2 separate regions of the Homo sapiens genome follow, and region 2 is linked to region 1. Evidence: fine-mapped expression QTL. Tissue or cell type: whole blood. Region 1 holds a variant in brackets; the other region holds the start of a gene. All regions are shown on one strand. Distances are from middle to middle.

Evidence for each region. PIP is the estimated chance that this variant, and not a neighbour inherited with it, causes the effect.
Region 2: SLC25A25 starts here. The variant in region 1 is fine-mapped to the expression of SLC25A25 in whole blood (TOPMed, PIP above 0.99).

The regions. Positions count from the first base shown.
Region 1 is chr9:128,088,217-128,096,216 of GRCh38, forward strand. All of the region lies in intron 1 of SLC25A25 (solute carrier family 25 member 25), which reads left to right. Among named protein-coding and RNA genes, the nearest start is that of SLC25A25, 24 kb to the left of the region's middle. RefSeq lists enhancers at 3,214-3,734, 3,735-4,255. The variant G/C (reference allele first, on the strand shown) is at 3,588.
Region 2 is chr9:128,064,349-128,072,348 of GRCh38, forward strand. It overlaps SLC25A25 (solute carrier family 25 member 25), which reads left to right and starts at 3,884. Exons shown (of 11, transcript NM_001330988.2): 1 at 3,884-4,232. The coding sequence starts at 3,972. It overlaps NAIF1 (nuclear apoptosis inducing factor 1), which reads right to left and starts at 2,972. Exons shown (of 2, transcript NM_197956.4): 1 at 2,243-2,972. The coding sequence starts at 2,753. RefSeq lists enhancers at 2,831-3,160, 4,911-4,990 and a silencer at 3,611-4,180.

The sequences.
Region 1 (8,000 bases):
TCACTGTAGAGGCAAAACCCTCTGAGCACTCTTTCTGAACCTCCCTGTATTCTGAGGTTTTCCACTCTGGCTGACAGGAACGGGAACTATTCCTAGCCCTGTAATCCTTTGGGATGGTTCTTTCCCCATGCTCAGGTAGGTTCCTCCCACCCATGCGCTGTGACTCCCTGGGGACCCTTGGGGGAGCTCACTCCCTGTGCAGCTCTCTCCTCTCCGGCGCTTTGTCTGGCACACTCTAGCTGCCCTGGCCTGGCCTCCCCAGCCTCTCAGCCCCATCTCTTGAACATCAGGAGGCTGCTGGGTTCCACCTGGCTTCTCTGCTCTGCACCTAGACTGGAAGCTCCAGGCAGGAAGCTGGGGCAATGGGAGGCGCTCCTGGCTTCGTTTGTATACATTGTATACATTTCTCAGGAATCAGTGTCCTTAGCCTGTTGTCCAGCGGCTGGGAAAGATTGTTTTCTATGTTTTGTTTGCACTTGTAGTTATAGGCAGGAAGGTGACTTAGTCCCTGTTACTCCTATCTTTGCCGGAAGCCCTTGAACTCATAACTCAGTTCTGTGGTAGGAGGAAGTGCATTAAATCAAAAAGCGGTAATCTACTAAATAAGGGATTTCTCTTATGTGTGTAGATGGGAGGCCAAAACATCACTATCTCCTCCATCTGGCCAGACTTTCTGTGCCTAAAAACAGGGCTCACATTCATTAAAGGATTTATTTATTTATTTTTGAGGCAGGGTCTCACTCTGTCAGCCAGGCTGCAGCCTCCACTTCCCAGGCTCAGGTGATTCTCCCACCTCAGCCTCCCGTGTAGCTGGGACTACAGGTGCGCACCACCATGCTCAGCTAATTTTTGATTTTTTTGTAGAGACAGAGTCACATTATGTTGGCCATGCCGGTCTCAAACTCTGGGCTCAAAAGACCTGCCTTGGCCTCCCAAAAGTGCTGGGATTACAGACGTGAACCACCACTCCTGGCCAAAGGATTTTTATTTACTTAGGGTTTTTGGCTGTGGACTGGCTCTTCTTTAGTATTAAAATGATCTAGTTGCATGAATCGCAATCATTTTGTAGATAATAATAATAAAATAGCTAATAGCTCCATGTACTGTCCTAAGAACTTTATATATTCTCTAATTTAGTCTTTAACCAATTCTATGAAGTACTAACTCCATTTTGCACATAAGGCTAGTGAAGCACAGAGAGCTGAAGTATCTTAGCCAAGATTACACAGCTAATAAGTGATGGCCAGGATTGGAATTTGGGGTCTGGCTCCAGTGACTGTGCATTTAATCAACATGCAAAACTGCTTCTGGACAAGTTCTGTTTATCTAGTGAGAGGGCAACTGATACAGGCTCCTTCAGCTTTCAGAACAAGCCTTAGGACCCCATCTCAACCATCTTACTTTCTCTCCAGATTGTCTTTTTTTTTTTTTTTTTTGAGACAGGATCTCCCTGTCACCCAGGTTGGACTGCAGTGGCACGATGATGGCTCACTGCAGCCTTGACCACCCATGCTCAAGTGATCCTCCCACCTCTCAGCCTCCTGAGTAGCTGGGACTACAACAGGCACCACGATGCCTGGCTATTTTTTTTTTACTTTTTGAAGAGGCAGGTTTCTCCACATTGTCCAGGCTGGTCTCAGACTCGTCGGCTCAGGCAGTTGGCCCACCTCCATCTCCCAAAGTACTGGAATTACAGGTGTAAGCCACTGCGCTCGGCCTTCTTTTTCAATGATTGTTTTATTTACATGTGTATGTGTGTATGCCTGGGTCATACATGCTTATGGTTCAGTTTCGCAAGATATAAGAGGATGTTCGGTGAAAACACGTCTCTCATCTGCCTTTCTCCTCTCAAAGCCCCAAGTGTCCTCCCCGCCCCACACCCTCTCTTCAATTTAATTATCTTTCCAGAGGCCGTCTTCACAAATAAAAGCTAGGAATAAATGGCAGCACACAATCCCCTTTCTTCTATACTTTGTCATTTAACAAGTTGGTTTTTTTTTGTTTTTTGTTTTTGAGATGAAATTTCGCTCTTGTCACCCAGGCTGGAGTGCAATGGTGCAATCTTGGCTCACTGCAACCTCCGCCTCCTGGGTTCAAGTGATTCTCCTGCCTCAGCCTCCCAAGTAGCTGGGATTACAGGCGCCTGCCACCATGCCCGGCTAATTTTTCTATTTTTAGTAGAGACGGGGTTTCACCATGTTGGCCAGGCTGGTCTTGAACTCCGCCTGCCTTGGCCTCCCAAAGTGCTGGGATTATAGGCATGAGCCACCACATCCGGCCTTGTGTTTGTATTTTTAAAATAATGGTTGTGGGGCCATGCGCGGTGGCTCGCTCCTGTAATCCCAGCACTTTGGGAGGCCAAGGTGGATGGATCACTTGAGGTCAGGAGTTTGAGACCAGCCTGGTCAACATGGTGAAACCCCGTCTCTACTAAAAATACAAACATTAGATAGGCATGGTGGCAGGTGCCTGTAATCCCAGGTACTTGGGAGGCTGAGGCAGGAGAATTCGCTTGAACCTGGGAGGTGGAGGTTGCGTTGAGCCAAGAGCGACCCACTGCGCTCCAGCCTGGATGACAGAGCGAGACTCCATCTCAATCAATCAATCAATCAATAAAGGTTGTGAACACTATCAGAGGGTCACCTCAGCGAGGAATGACAGTAGCCAGTGCATTTATCTGTTAGTAAACTAAGAAACAAATGACCATAGATTAATTCCTTTTTATTTATGACCTTTTACTCAGTTCGGTCTACAGACTTAATCTGTGCCTGGTCCTAGGGGTAGAAAGGTCTGTGACTTGGTCCCTGCCCCCAGGCAGCTCATCTTCTGGAGGGAGACGCAGCAGAAGTAGCTGCTGTGATGTGGCATGTGCTCTGCTGGAGAAAACTGGATCTTGAAACAAGGAAAAATGTTTCTAGAATGCTCTTAGGACATGCTGCCAAGGACTCTTGATGGTGTTGCACTTGATGGTGAATGCCTTCTGGAAGCAACCCGAGTGGAGGGCAGGGAGTTACTTTTGCTACGGAGCCAGCTCAGAGTGGATTCTGTAAGCTGAGCCTCATCTGGAGCTTGAGTCCGCACCTCCCTGCAGAATTGCCGGGCTTCATGCAGGCAATCAGCTGCCTGTGATTGGAGGGCTGGTGCTGGTAGGGATAATGAACTTGGTAGTGTCGGCAGAGGTGATTGGCCGGGCTCTGCTGCAGTGAGAATGCAGACTGGATGCTCGGGTCCTCGGCTTGGGTGATGAGCGAGGACAGCTGAATAACTGGGAGCTCGAAGTTGCTTGCTGCCTCCGGGAGTGGTCTGCTTGGCTGTCGCGTTTTCCTTTTCTTTTTTTTTTTTTTTAAAAAAAAGCCAAACGTTTGCTCACCATCACCTGCAGAAGTGAGTTTTTATTGAAGAAGCTCCAGCTGCTTTCTCCTTATTGCCGGCAGCCTGGCAAGCCTCCCTTAGAGTGAGCTACTTCTCAGGCCGGGCACGACAGCAGTGCTAGCACATTTGAAAAAGCAGGAAACCGCCCCTGCATGCAGAGCTTCCAGCCTGAGAACCCCAGGCCCGTCCTCCCAGCAGCTGTGTAGCCAGAGAGC[G/C]TTGGTACTGTGGTCACATCCCTCAAAAGTGAACAGTCGCCATCAGAGGCGTTTGGAGGAGACCGTGATGTTGCAGATGCTGTGGCATTTCCTAGCTAGCTTTTTCCCCAGGGCTGGGTGCCACGGCTCCAGAGAGGGGGACGATCGTGAAGTCAGAGGCACCCCAGCCCCTGCCTGGAGAGACCAGATGGCAAGCTTTTTGGGGAAACAGGACGGAAGGGCTGAGGCCACGGAAAAAAGACCCACCATTTTGCTGGTGGTTGGACCTGCAGAGCAGTTTCCTAAGGTAATGTTGGCCTCAAGAGGACCTCCTAGTTTAGGGCCTGGTCTGGGATCATTTTCCTGGGGAAAAAACGAGTGTGGGGAGGAAGGGAGAACTCACAACGTTAGTTCGGGGTTCAGGGAGAAGTGGTAGGCAATGAGGAAGCCCACAAATGCAATCTAAAATCTTTCTGTGGCCCCTGTGAAAGCTGCATTACCCACTGCGAGCACCCCAGTGTGGCTGTTGAGGGAAGGAAGGTTGCAATAGACTTGCCTTAGGATTTGTTAGTTTGGCTGAAGAAAGCCATTTGAAAGTGAGGGGCAGCCTGTGAAAGTGTGCCTTAGCTTATCCGAACAGCTCAGGAAGGGCGAAGCTAAAGGGGCGAGAGAGTGTGCCTCGACCGTGGAACCCAGTTGCTTGGAGCTGTGGGGGTGGTCTTGGCATCCTGAAGGTCACAGTCCCCTTGCCTGGGTCCGACCCATCTCTCCTTTGGGTCTGGGAGGAAGAGTGAAGGCATGAGACTGGGTCCGAGGAGAGGCTGGAGTCATGAGGCGCAGAGGCTGGTGCCCCTCTGGAAATGACTGCGGCCGCTGCGGGTCTGCCAACTGTGGGGTCTTTCATCCTTCCTGAGCCCAGAGCGTGAGTTACCATCCTCACAAGAGCCAAGGTAAGTGGTAGTATCCCCATTTCGTAGATGAAGAAACTGAGGTGCAGAATGGTTACATTATTTGCCCAGGGTTAAACAACTAAAGAGAGGTGGAGCTGAGATTTCACCCCCAAATCCTTGTCCTGTGCTGCCTCGTTTTCCCCTTAGGAAAGCAGTTTTTAAGGAGACTAATGGAGTGCTCAGTATTAGAAAGGAAATTGCCACTTGGCTCAGATTTCTCCTCCCTGCTGTAGGAGTGACCTCGTTCACCTCCTGAGCTTTGGTTATTTTCAATCTTTTTACTTAGGAGAAAAATCAGAGAAGAAAAGGAGATTCTGCCCGTTTGGCACATTATAGATACCACAGAGATGTTAAGATGAATTGCTACATTTAAGAAATAAAAGCTCATTTTGCCTTTGCTACTAGGGACTTTTGATGTAATAACATTTGCAGTCATGTGGGCACTGGGGAGAAGTCTTCGTCTTTGATGGGTTCCTTCTGAGCAAAGCAGTGGGTCTCTCAGAGACTGTTATGCCTGAGATGTCTTTGCTTAATATTCAAAGAGAGGGTGTCACTTTGTACCTTTTGATTGTTTTAGACAAGATTGGAATGGCTGTGGCACTAGCTTTGTGAGGAACTTTTATCTATAGACCTGCTTGCCTTATTACTACCTCGAATGGCCGGCTCCTTTTAAAATCACCTATTTTTGTCTTTAGCAGTTAACTGCTCTATTTTTCAGCATCATACAGTACCCCCTTGCCAGCTCTCCCCCCAGGGACTGCCTAGGATAGGACTGTCTGTTCTGAACAGCTTAGTTCCTGGCCTGCAGAATCAAGAGACCCACACCTTTTACTGGCTGATCCCCAAAAGAGAGACAGTTCAGCTGGCTGCAAACTGGGGGAGCCCCAAGTGGGATATGGGGCAGCTGGTTGGGCTTGAAGCCAGAGAGAAAGCAAATCTGAGAAGCATAGACTCTCAAAGCAGATAGACCAAGAACTGGAGTAACAGGAACATGGATGCAGCCCGCATCCTTTTCCAGAACAGTGCTCTGAAGGTGTTTGGGGTTTGTGATCACTGGCTGATTGGGGCTGGCCTCACCAAATCACAAAAAGGACCTCCAGAATGTTCTGGAAACATTTTTGAAAAGTTCACTTTAGGCCAGGCGCAGTGGCTCATGCCTGTAATCCCAGCACTTTGGGAGTCTGAGGTGGACAGATCACGAGGTCAGGAGTTTGAGACCAGCCTGGCCAATATGGTGAAACCCCGTCTCTACTAAAAATACAAAAATTAGCTGGGCGTGGTGGTGCGTGCCTGTACTCCCAGCTACTCAGGAGGCTGAGACAGGAGAATCGCTTGAATCCAGGAGGCGGAGGTTGCAGTGAGCCAAGATTGTGCCGCTGTACTCCAGCCTGGGTGACAGAGCAAGACTCTGTTTAAAAGAAAAAAAGAAAAGTTCACTTTGGTTCTCGGGCTTCTCAGTGTCCCAGAAGCACTACTTTGTTTTGCTCTCACTTCCCCTGTTTAAATATGTCTGCTAGTGAGTCAGGTTCCTGCAAGCTTTTATTCTAGGAACTGTTCCAGTTTTTCCCTTTATCTTTGTCTTACAGTTAATCTTCAGTTGGAGAAGAAAGCCATTACTCTGGAGTGGGAGGTGCCCTCAGCGGCATTCAAGCTTTCAAATCCTGAGGGGCTGTCTTCTCGGAAGCACAGAGAATTTTGCTTATTGTGTGTGTAACTGCCAAGTGTAGGCAGGTTTCATTGGAAACTGGCTACACTAGGCTGTCATGGCAACCTGATCATCAAATGACACTGTGGCCACAGCCGCCAATGAGGTTTGAGAGCCTTAAGGGTGGGTGGGGCTTGAGCGGCTGGATGCTGGCAAAGCTTCCTCATATTAATATTTCTGGCTCAGCCTGAGTCATTGCAGAGGAGGGGAGAGGAACTTTCTGACCTAATGCTACACTCCCAGAGGCACTGTACCTGCCCTGTTCTTATTCATGGTATTCCGGCCTTTACCTGAAGCACCTGCTTTCTTCTGGCATGTAACATAGTGGTAGAACAAGGAAAGCTTTTGGTGGCATTGGCAGATTTGCTGTGAGAAGATGCTCAGGAGAGGAACTGCTACTTTATAGATTAATTGCAATCTGATGCCACTGAATCCTAAGGGACCTAGTGTTGCTGTCACTGTTTCCGAATACTAGTCATAGGAATGGACATCGGAGGAGCTGAAACAGATGAGGGTCTGTGCCACAAAGTCAGAATAATAAAGAGCAGCGAGGCATCGCACACAATGCGCGTTGTGCCCAGATCTTGGAGTGTCAAGAAGGCCGGTGTGAAGCATCAGGGCTGAAACCCGAGGCCTGCTTTAGTTCCTCCATAATCTAGTTCTCACAGAGGCATTCAGAAGCTGTGACACAAACACCGTTTTTGGTTGTATTTAGCTAGGGCTCAACTTGCTCAAGTTACACCTTTCCCACACACCTGCCGCCTTCCAGTATGAGGTATCACCTACTGTCTGGCTTACCGGCATCCTTTGGGAACTGAATACTAAAATCTGTTTTGGGTGCTGTTTGAAGTGGATGTTGTAACAAGAACCCTGGGTGCAAGGCCCTGCCCTGCCCTTGACAGGCTTTGGGAATTGGGCAAATCAGGTCGCCTCTCCCAGGCCTGTTTGCTCAACTCGGAGATTAAGGGATGATCCCAGAGCCCCTCTGGGCCCCCACAGTCTGCAGTTCCAGGAATACAGCAGTTGTCCTGGACACTAGCACCTAGAGATGGGCTTATTTGGGTAGAACTCTCCATTTTTATATGAACATGGAGTCTTGAGTTACCTGTGAAACTCAGTAGGATGGATGATTTAAAAAACCAAATGCCAATTGAAGTTTATCCAATGAAGACATTCCATGAGACTCAGTCACAGCAGCAAATAAGTTAGAACCCTTTTAAAAATTAGCTGGGTGTGCTCGTGGGCACCTGTAGTCCCAGCTACTCGGGAGGCTGAGGCAGGAGAATCGCTTGAACCCAGGAGGTGGAGGTTGTAGTGAGCCAAGATCGCGCCACTGCACTCCAGCCTGGGCGACAGAGCAAGACTCCATCTTAGGAAAGACAAAGAAAAAAGAAGAAGAATACAGGTTTCACTTTTATTTAGTATCATTTTCAAATCTCAGATTTCTTTTGTTAAATACATTATAAAACTCAATGGTACAGTAATATGTGCCATAATTATTTTTAAAATATACTTTAATAGAAAGTGAAATCTCCAATTGAACTTATTCAGTCAAAATATTTGCTTTTTTATATTAGAATGACTGCAGTCATCACTAAAATGAGATATTCAACAGATCTGTATAATTTAGTTTCAGAAGCAAACAATAATTTAACAAAGGAAGACCAGCATTTTTTTTAATAGGGCAACATCTCATTTTATAAAGTAGAGTGAGCATTCCTAAAGACCAGCATTTTAGGGTTCAGCTTTTATTTATAAATGTGAACCTCCTTTAAAATA
Region 2 (8,000 bases), 24 kb before region 1:
TACAGGCGTGAGCCACCGCGCCTGGCCGGGGTTCAGAATCTTAATCTACTTGGTAATCAAAGGGCCAGCCCTGGATCTGGCAAAAGCAAAGATGTTGATCATAATACTAGCAAAACTTTTAGAGCAACTACTACATGTCAGGCACTTTGTACTCATTAGCTCAACAAATCCTCAAAATGACACCAAGAGGTTGGTGCTGTCATCTTCATTTTTCAGAGATGAGGAAACAGACTGAGAAATGTAGAATGACTTGCTAAGGTCACAGAGCTCATTCAGCAGAGCCAAGAGGCAAACCCAGGTCTCCCCAACAGCAGAGCCCGATGTGCTCCTGACCTCCACGCTGGGCTGCTCCTAGCTAAGAAAGGCACCCCCGGCCGGGCGCGGTGGCTCACGCTTGTAATCCCAGCACTTTGGGAGGCCGAGGTGGGTGGATTACCTGAGGTCAGGAGTTCGAGACCAGCCTGACCAACATGGAGAAACCTCGTCTCTATTAAAAATACAAAATTAGCCGGGCATGGTGGCGCATGCCTGTAATCCCAGCTACTTGGGAGGCTGAGGCAGCAGTGAGCCGAGATCATGCCATTGCACTCCAGCCTGGGCAACAAGAGCAAAACTCCATCTCATAAAAGAAAGAAAGAAAGAAAGGCACCCCAGAGGCTGGGTCACATGCTCTCTGTGGTACCATGCAGCAGGCATCTTGGGTGGGACTCTACACACGCTCTTTGCAGCCACATTAGTCCTACCTCCTTTGATGCTTTCTGCTTTTTTTTTTTTTTTTGAGACGGAGTTTTGCTCTTTTGCCCTGTTACCCAGGTTGGAGTTCAGTGGCACGATCTCGGCTCACTGCAACTTCTGCCTCCCAGGTTCAAGTGATTGTTGTGCCTCAGCCTCCCGAGTAGCTGGGACTACAGTCGCCCACCTCCAAGCCTGGGTAATTTTTGTATTTTTAGTAGAGACAGGGTTTCACCATATTGGCCAGGCTTGTCTCGAACTCCTGACCTCCACTGATCTGCCCACCTCAGCCTCCCAAAGTGCTGGGATTACAGGAGTGAGCCACCATGCCAGCCCTTTGATGCTTTCTTGACTTGACTTCCTAGGCCCCTATGGCGAAGCAGAAAAGGAGGTGGGAATGGGGCAGCAGTAGCTAAAGTACCCAGTCAATGTCTCCCTGTCTGTCATCATCTGGGTCAATCCGATACTTAAACATCCTTCCTGTTCCAGAACAGCATCTGACCTAGACCCGTGTTTGTCCCCCTTACCCCACCCCAGTGTATTCTTGAGAAATACGCATTGTGAGGGGATGGCACTCGCACATCCACCCAACTCCCCCAACCCCCACTGAGAATCACTGAATGATCCAGCTCACGGTCATCACAAACGAGCAGAGGTAACAGGGCACAAACTCTTCTTTGAACTAAAAAATCCAACCAAAGTTAGTTCTGTTGTCATTCCTGAGAACCACGGAAAGGATCCTGGCTGGGCTGTATGGGCCTCCGCGCATGTGGGAGAGGTCAAGCTCCTCCACCCTTCAACGCCAATGTCAGCTATGTGTCCTTATGCCACCAAGAAGCCCCCTTCCTCTTCCGGGGCCTGAGGTTTTCCCAACTGATGGCGAAGCTATTCCTATATGTGTCATCTCTGTCCTACTAGAACATAACTGGCCTGTATTTTAGACAACTTGGTAATCCCAGTGCCCAGCACAGGGTTTGGTACAGAATAAGTGCTAATGTTTGATGAATGAATGAATGAATGAATGGAGTAGATTAACACCAGGAACCATGAGGCTCCTGAGCAGCACCTGATGAAAGATCCCCCACACTGAAAACAGAATCCAGAATCGTTGTCTCACTTGGGCAGTATTATTCCCATCAATTTTTTCAACAAATATGGCCTGGCTGTCTACTACAAGCCGGGCCCTGTGAAAAGTCCTGTGGGGATACAGACACGGTCTCTTGTTTTCAAGGACCACCCAGTTCGGCAAGTGGAGGTAAGTCATGGACAAACATGGTGGCAATGCTCAGTGGCGAGCTATCCAGCACGTCAGAAGTCCAGCCCACGTGCTGAGGAAGTCCCAAAGAGAGCAAGATCACTTCTGTCTGGGTGCTGCTCTTGGAAGGCCTCATGGTCTTCCAAGACCCCCATCTGACCTCTGACCCTTGGCAGCCAACCTTCCCCAGGCCACCCCAGAGCTTGCTGGCCCTTCCCACTTATGCACGCCGCCTGGGCAGGAGAGGTCACTCACTCTGTGTCAGGGTGACCGTGGCTGCGGCTGCGGTGGCCGAGGGTCCGAGGGCCACAGGGTGGATCTCTGTGGTGCTGGGCAGGCTGATGATGGTGGCCTCGCCCAGCAGGTTGCAGATACGTTGTTGCATGGGGGTCAGCAGCACTGGGGCTACAGCTGGGCCACCGCCACCACTGCCACCGCCTGTCCCAGGCCCCCCAGCTCCGTCCTCCTCAGTGGGCCCCGGCGCCTCACCACCCTCCACGGCGGCCCGGACCTGGGCAACCTTGCGACGGACCTCGGTCTTGAGGTCAGACCACTTCTTCTTGACCTCAGGCAGCTCTCTGCGGCAGGTGGCCACGGCGTTGACCCTTCTCAGGATGCCGTGCCAGGCCGCACTCTTGGCGGCCAGGGGTACCCCGGCGTTGAAGTGGTTCACCAGCAGGTGCTTCTTCAGCTCCAGCTCCTCCACGATGATCTCCACCTCCCGCTCTGAGAAGTTCATCTTCCTTTTCTTGGCTGGGACGGCCATGGCCTCTCCCCTCCCCTCTTTTTAAAGAAATTATAATCCCCTCAAGCGCCCCAATTCCCCTTCTCTTCTTCCTCAGCCTCGCCCCTCACCCACCCCCTACAGGGGATAGGCCAGGCTTGCTCGAGGCCAAGCACTAGGCCTTTGGTAACCCCCCTCGCTACGCAAAGTGCGTAGGGCCCAGCCCCGACCGGCCCGGCCGCTGCCAGCCAGCAGCGTAATGGCTTCCTGAATCTGCCTCTTCCGCCGAGGTGTGCGGAGATCCGCCCACTTCCCCTCTTCCCGCCTCCCAGCGCTTCTCCGGGAAAACCGGCCTTCCCGGTTGGTAGCTGCTCAAATATCACGTCGATCACTGGTTCTTTCGATCTGTCGCTCAGCTAAAGAGCACGCCTGCTTACTGTAATTCGCCTGATCATTGGTCTAAAATTGTGTCCGTCGCCCAGAGGGCCCCGCCCACCTAACCTTTATTCACTTCCATTGGAAAATCATTCTGTCGTTCAATTGTCAGTATTACGACTATTAAGCCGTTAAATTCAGCTATTTTATTGGTGGTTTAGGGAGTTAGATTACCAAAACCCTGCTTCCTGAGGATACTTAGTGCTTTCGGCCGTGACCCATGGGTCAATTAACTTTTAATTCCTCCCACCGGCACAAACTCTGCCTCGCAACTGCAGTTCACAAATGCTCTCACACAAATCCTGTTTCCCACTGGAGGCTACGATCTCTCCGTACACTACCGCTCCTCCCATCCTTAAGATCCCGCAGTCTAAACAGAGTTAGTTCATCAATGGAAACTGGACACGGGGCCTTCCGCCTGCCAATCACATTACTCATGCCTATCGCTGCGTGATTTTCTCTCTCTTGGCCCCCGGCTCAGCCAATCCCCGCCTCCCTCAGTTTGAATCGGCCCCAGGCGGAGCCGGGTGACCCCGCCCACCCCATTGATCCGGGTAGTCCGTGGCGCGTGGGCTGTCCTTAGACAGGCTCCGCCCCTCCCTCCTCCCCATCCGAGCCTGTGACTGGCCTTCGGTGCGCCCGGGCGTGGCCGGCGAAGCGGGGCGCGGAGGGGCGGGGCTCCCGGAAGCCGCCCCTTCCGCCAGCTTGCCGGCGTCTCCGAGCCCGCGCTCCCAGCTGCAGAGCGCCTGGCTTGCCTCCCGCGCGGTCACCGCCGGCCCGCCGCCCCCGCTCCCGCCCGCGCCCGGAGCCCCTGCCTCGCGCCCGATGGTGAGCAGTGTGTTGTGCCGCTGTGTGGCCTCCCCGCCGCCGGACGCCGCCGCCACCGCCGCCTCTTCGTCTGCCTCATCGCCGGCGTCCGTGGGGGACCCCTGCGGCGGCGCTATCTGCGGGGGCCCGGACCACCGGCTGCGCCTGTGGAGACTCTTTCAGACGCTCGACGTCAACCGGGACGGCGGCCTGTGTGTCAACGACCTGGCGGTGGGGCTGCGGCGCCTGGGACTGCACCGCACCGAGGGCGAGCTCCAGGTAGGCTGCGCGCGTCCTCAGCACTGGCGGGGAGGGAGCCCCTCGAGGGCCGGGTGACAGGTCTCGGGGGACGGCCCCTTGGGCTGGGCGGAACCCCCACTGTCCAGAGGAAGGGTGCCCCCTGACTCACTGAGGGACACCCCACTTATGCCCTGGTGGGAGCGGGGCTCCTTCCTGACTTCTTTGGGTGCTTGAGCCGGGTTCTTCGTGGACACAGGTGGGCATCCTATGGGCTTTCTGATGGGCGAAAAGCCCTTTCTTGCCCAGAGTAGAAGGCCAGGTCTCAGGAGTGTGCCTTTGTCACCTCCTGACCTCAAGGCCAAGCTGGACGCTCCCTTCACCCAAGGATGGGTTCATCCATCAGTCCCCAGCAGCACCCCCTCCTTTCCCTCTCGTTTCCATGCCAGCCGTGGGCCCTGATCTGGTTCCTCTCAGGAACATGTGGGAGTTGAAAAAAAAATTGGTATTGGGGTTTCAGGCTGATCCGTGTGGACGTTGGCGGCGAAGACTGACAGTTCTCATGGTTTAGGCTCATCTCCATTGCCCTGTTTATCCAGAAAATGGGATCGTGATCCCCGCGGGGTTGGAGTGTGGACGGAGTGAAAGAATCCGGGGGAAATTTTTTTTCTAAAAGTCAAAGCGAGATTGTTACTATTGTGGGCTCTTGGCCGAGGTGTGGGCATAGGGGCGCAGAGAAATGGTCATCCCTGGGCCTGCCAGGAAGAGAAGTGCTGGCCTTTCTGTATGAGAACCTCAGAGCAGAGGCTGTTTCTTTCCCTTCTGTCTCTTCCCCCTTCAGTCTGACTTGGCGGGTGTAGCTGCCATTTTCCCAAGTATTTCATTTACTGTAGCTTAGCCTGATTTACAGCCTGGAATAGGACTCCTGAGTACTTTACCTAAGAACCTGTTTCACTGCTGAGTTAGTTTGGTCCATTTGTACACATGACAATTAGAGAATCTCGTAGCCAAGTATGAAAAGAATCTGGTAAACCGCCAATGAATTAAACCAATTTGTTGGGTGGGTGTACATAGGTGTTGTTAACTCATGTTCAAGATTCTTGGATCAACATCCAAGGTATTTAGCGCTAACTATTAGGATCAGCCTAGGAGGACCAAGAGTAACACTACGCAAGATAGAATGGTTAAGTCCAGGAGATTTAGAGACAAGTTTTTTTTGTTTGTTTGTTTTGAGACGGAGTCTGGTTCTGTCTCCCAGGCTGGAGTGCATTGGTGCAATCTTGGCTCACTGCAGCCTCCGCCTCCTGGGTTCAAGAGATTCTCCCGCCTCAGCCTCCCCAGTAGCTGGGATTACAGGCATGTGCCACCACACCCAGCTAATTTTTTTTTTTTTTTTTTTGAGAGAGTCTCACTCTGTCACCCAGGCTCGAGTGCAGTGGTGCGATCTTGGCTCACTGCAAGCTCCGCCTCCCGGGTTCACGCCATTCTCCTGCCTCAGCCTCCCTAGTAGCTGGGATTACAGGCATGTGCCACCACACCCAGCTAATTTTTTTTTTTTTTTTTTTTTTTTTTGAGACAGTCTCACTCTGTCACCCAGGCTCGAGTGCAGTGGTGCGATCTTGGCTCACTGCAAGCTCCGCCTCCGGGGTTCACGCCATTCTCCTGCCTCAGCCTCCCTAGTAGCTGGGACTACAGGTGCCCGCCACCATGCCCAGCTAATTTTTTTTTTGTTTGAATTTTTAAGAGAGATGGGGTTTCACCGTGTTAGCCAGGATGGTCTTGATCTCCTGACCTTGTGATCCGCCCGCCTCAGCCTCCCAAAGTGCTGGGATTACAGGCATGAGCCACCGCGCCCGGCCACCCAGCTAATTTTTGTATTTTTAGTAGAGATAGGCTTCCACCATGTTGGCCAGGTTGGTCTCGGGCTCCTGACCTCAGGTGATCCACCTGCCTCGGCCTCCCAAAGTGTTGGGATTACAGGCGTGAGCCACCGCACCCGGCTAGAGACAGGTTTTTTTTGTTTTGTTTTGTTTTGTAATGTTTCCAGTCAGTTTTACACAAAATAGTGTTGTGAACTGGAGATTTTCCTGTATGTATCTGATGAATACTCACTTGAAAAGGTAGAATGGCTGGCCGGGCACAGTGGCTTACGCCTGTAATCCCAGCACTTTGGGAGGCCAAGCCGGGTGGATCACCTGAGGTCAGGAGTTTGAGACCAGCCTGACCAATTTGGAGAAAACCCGTCTCTACTAAAAATACAAAATTAACGGGGAGTGGTGGCGCATGCCTGTAATTCCAGTACTCGGGAGGCTGAGGCAGGAGAATCGCTTGAACCCGGGAGGCGGAGATTGCGGTGAGCTGAGATTGCACCATTGCACTCCAGCCTGGGCAACAAGAGTGAAACTCCATCTCAAAAAAAAAAAAAAAAAAAAAAAGAAAGAAAGAAAAGAAAAAATAGGAAGGCTAAACCCAGAGGGTTTCTGTTTCTGCTTTTGTGAACCTACCCACTTGGCATTGCTGCCAGGCACATTGAGAACGTCTGGCTGCGGGAGCATGTTAAATGTCTGCCCCATGCTTTGTGCATCAACTAGAGTCACAATGTTCTCGAGATTCAAGGCACATCTGATATTGATCCTAATCTGTTTTTTTAGTGGTGAATTTCTCGGGGCAAATAAGGAGAAAGTGATCATTTTTCTTTCTGGTTTTGAAAGAAAACTTTTATTAACCAAAGAGAGCCTAGCCCCTTGGGGTCACTTTGACTCTAAAATCTTTGACTCCATGACAGATCTAAGTTCTATGATAGGAAGCATTTCTTTATTCTTTTGGTGTGTGGGTTTAGTATAGAGTGTATTTCATTTATTTATCTATTATTATTATTACTTTTCTGAGATGGAGTTGCACTTTTGTTGCCCAAGCAGGAGTGCAATGGAATGATCTCAGCTCACTGCAACCTTTGCCTCCTGGGTTCAAGTGATTCTCCTGGCTCAGCCTCCCTGGGACTACAGGCACGCACCACCACGCCCTGCTAATTTTTTTTTTTTTTTTGTATTTTTAGTAGAAATGGGGTTTCACCATGTTGGCCAGGCTGGTCTCAAACTCCTGACCTCAGATGATCTGCCCGCCTTGGCCCCCCAAAGCACTGGGATTACAGGCGTGAGCTACCGCGCCTGGCCTATTTATCTATTTTATTTTTTTTTGAGAAGCAGTCCGCTCTGTCGCCCAGGCTGGAGTGCGATGGTGTGATTTCACTGAAACCTCTGCCTCCTGGGTTCAAGCAGTTCTCCTGCCTCAGCTTCCTGAGTAGCTGGGATTACAGGCGCCCGCCACCATGGCCCGGCTAATTTTTGTACTATTAGGAGACAAGGGATTTCACCATGTTGGCCAGGCTGGTCTCGAACTCTTGACCTCAAGTGATCTACCCACCTCGGCCTCCCAAAGTTCAGGGATTACAGGCGCGAGCAACTGCACCAGGCAGTATAGACTGTATTTCTACTACTTTTTTGGCTTTTGAACAAATTCAGTTGTTATACAGCTTTGAGATCAGAAATAATTTATTAGCTCATTACCTGTAAAGGAGCACAAGTTAGTCCTGTGGGGAACGTTTGAAGTCTTGGAGAGAAGATCTGCCTTTTTGTAAATAACTGGGCAACAGGAAGACATCCTGCCTCTTGTACCCCCATACCACTTCCTGTTGAATTAGCATTAGTATTAACTGCCTACAGAAAAAGCAGTGCTGAGGCTTTGCAGAACTAGCAGGAGCCGAAAGAGAACTGTGGGGCCCTTTGGGTCAAAATGGGTCATCTGCCATGG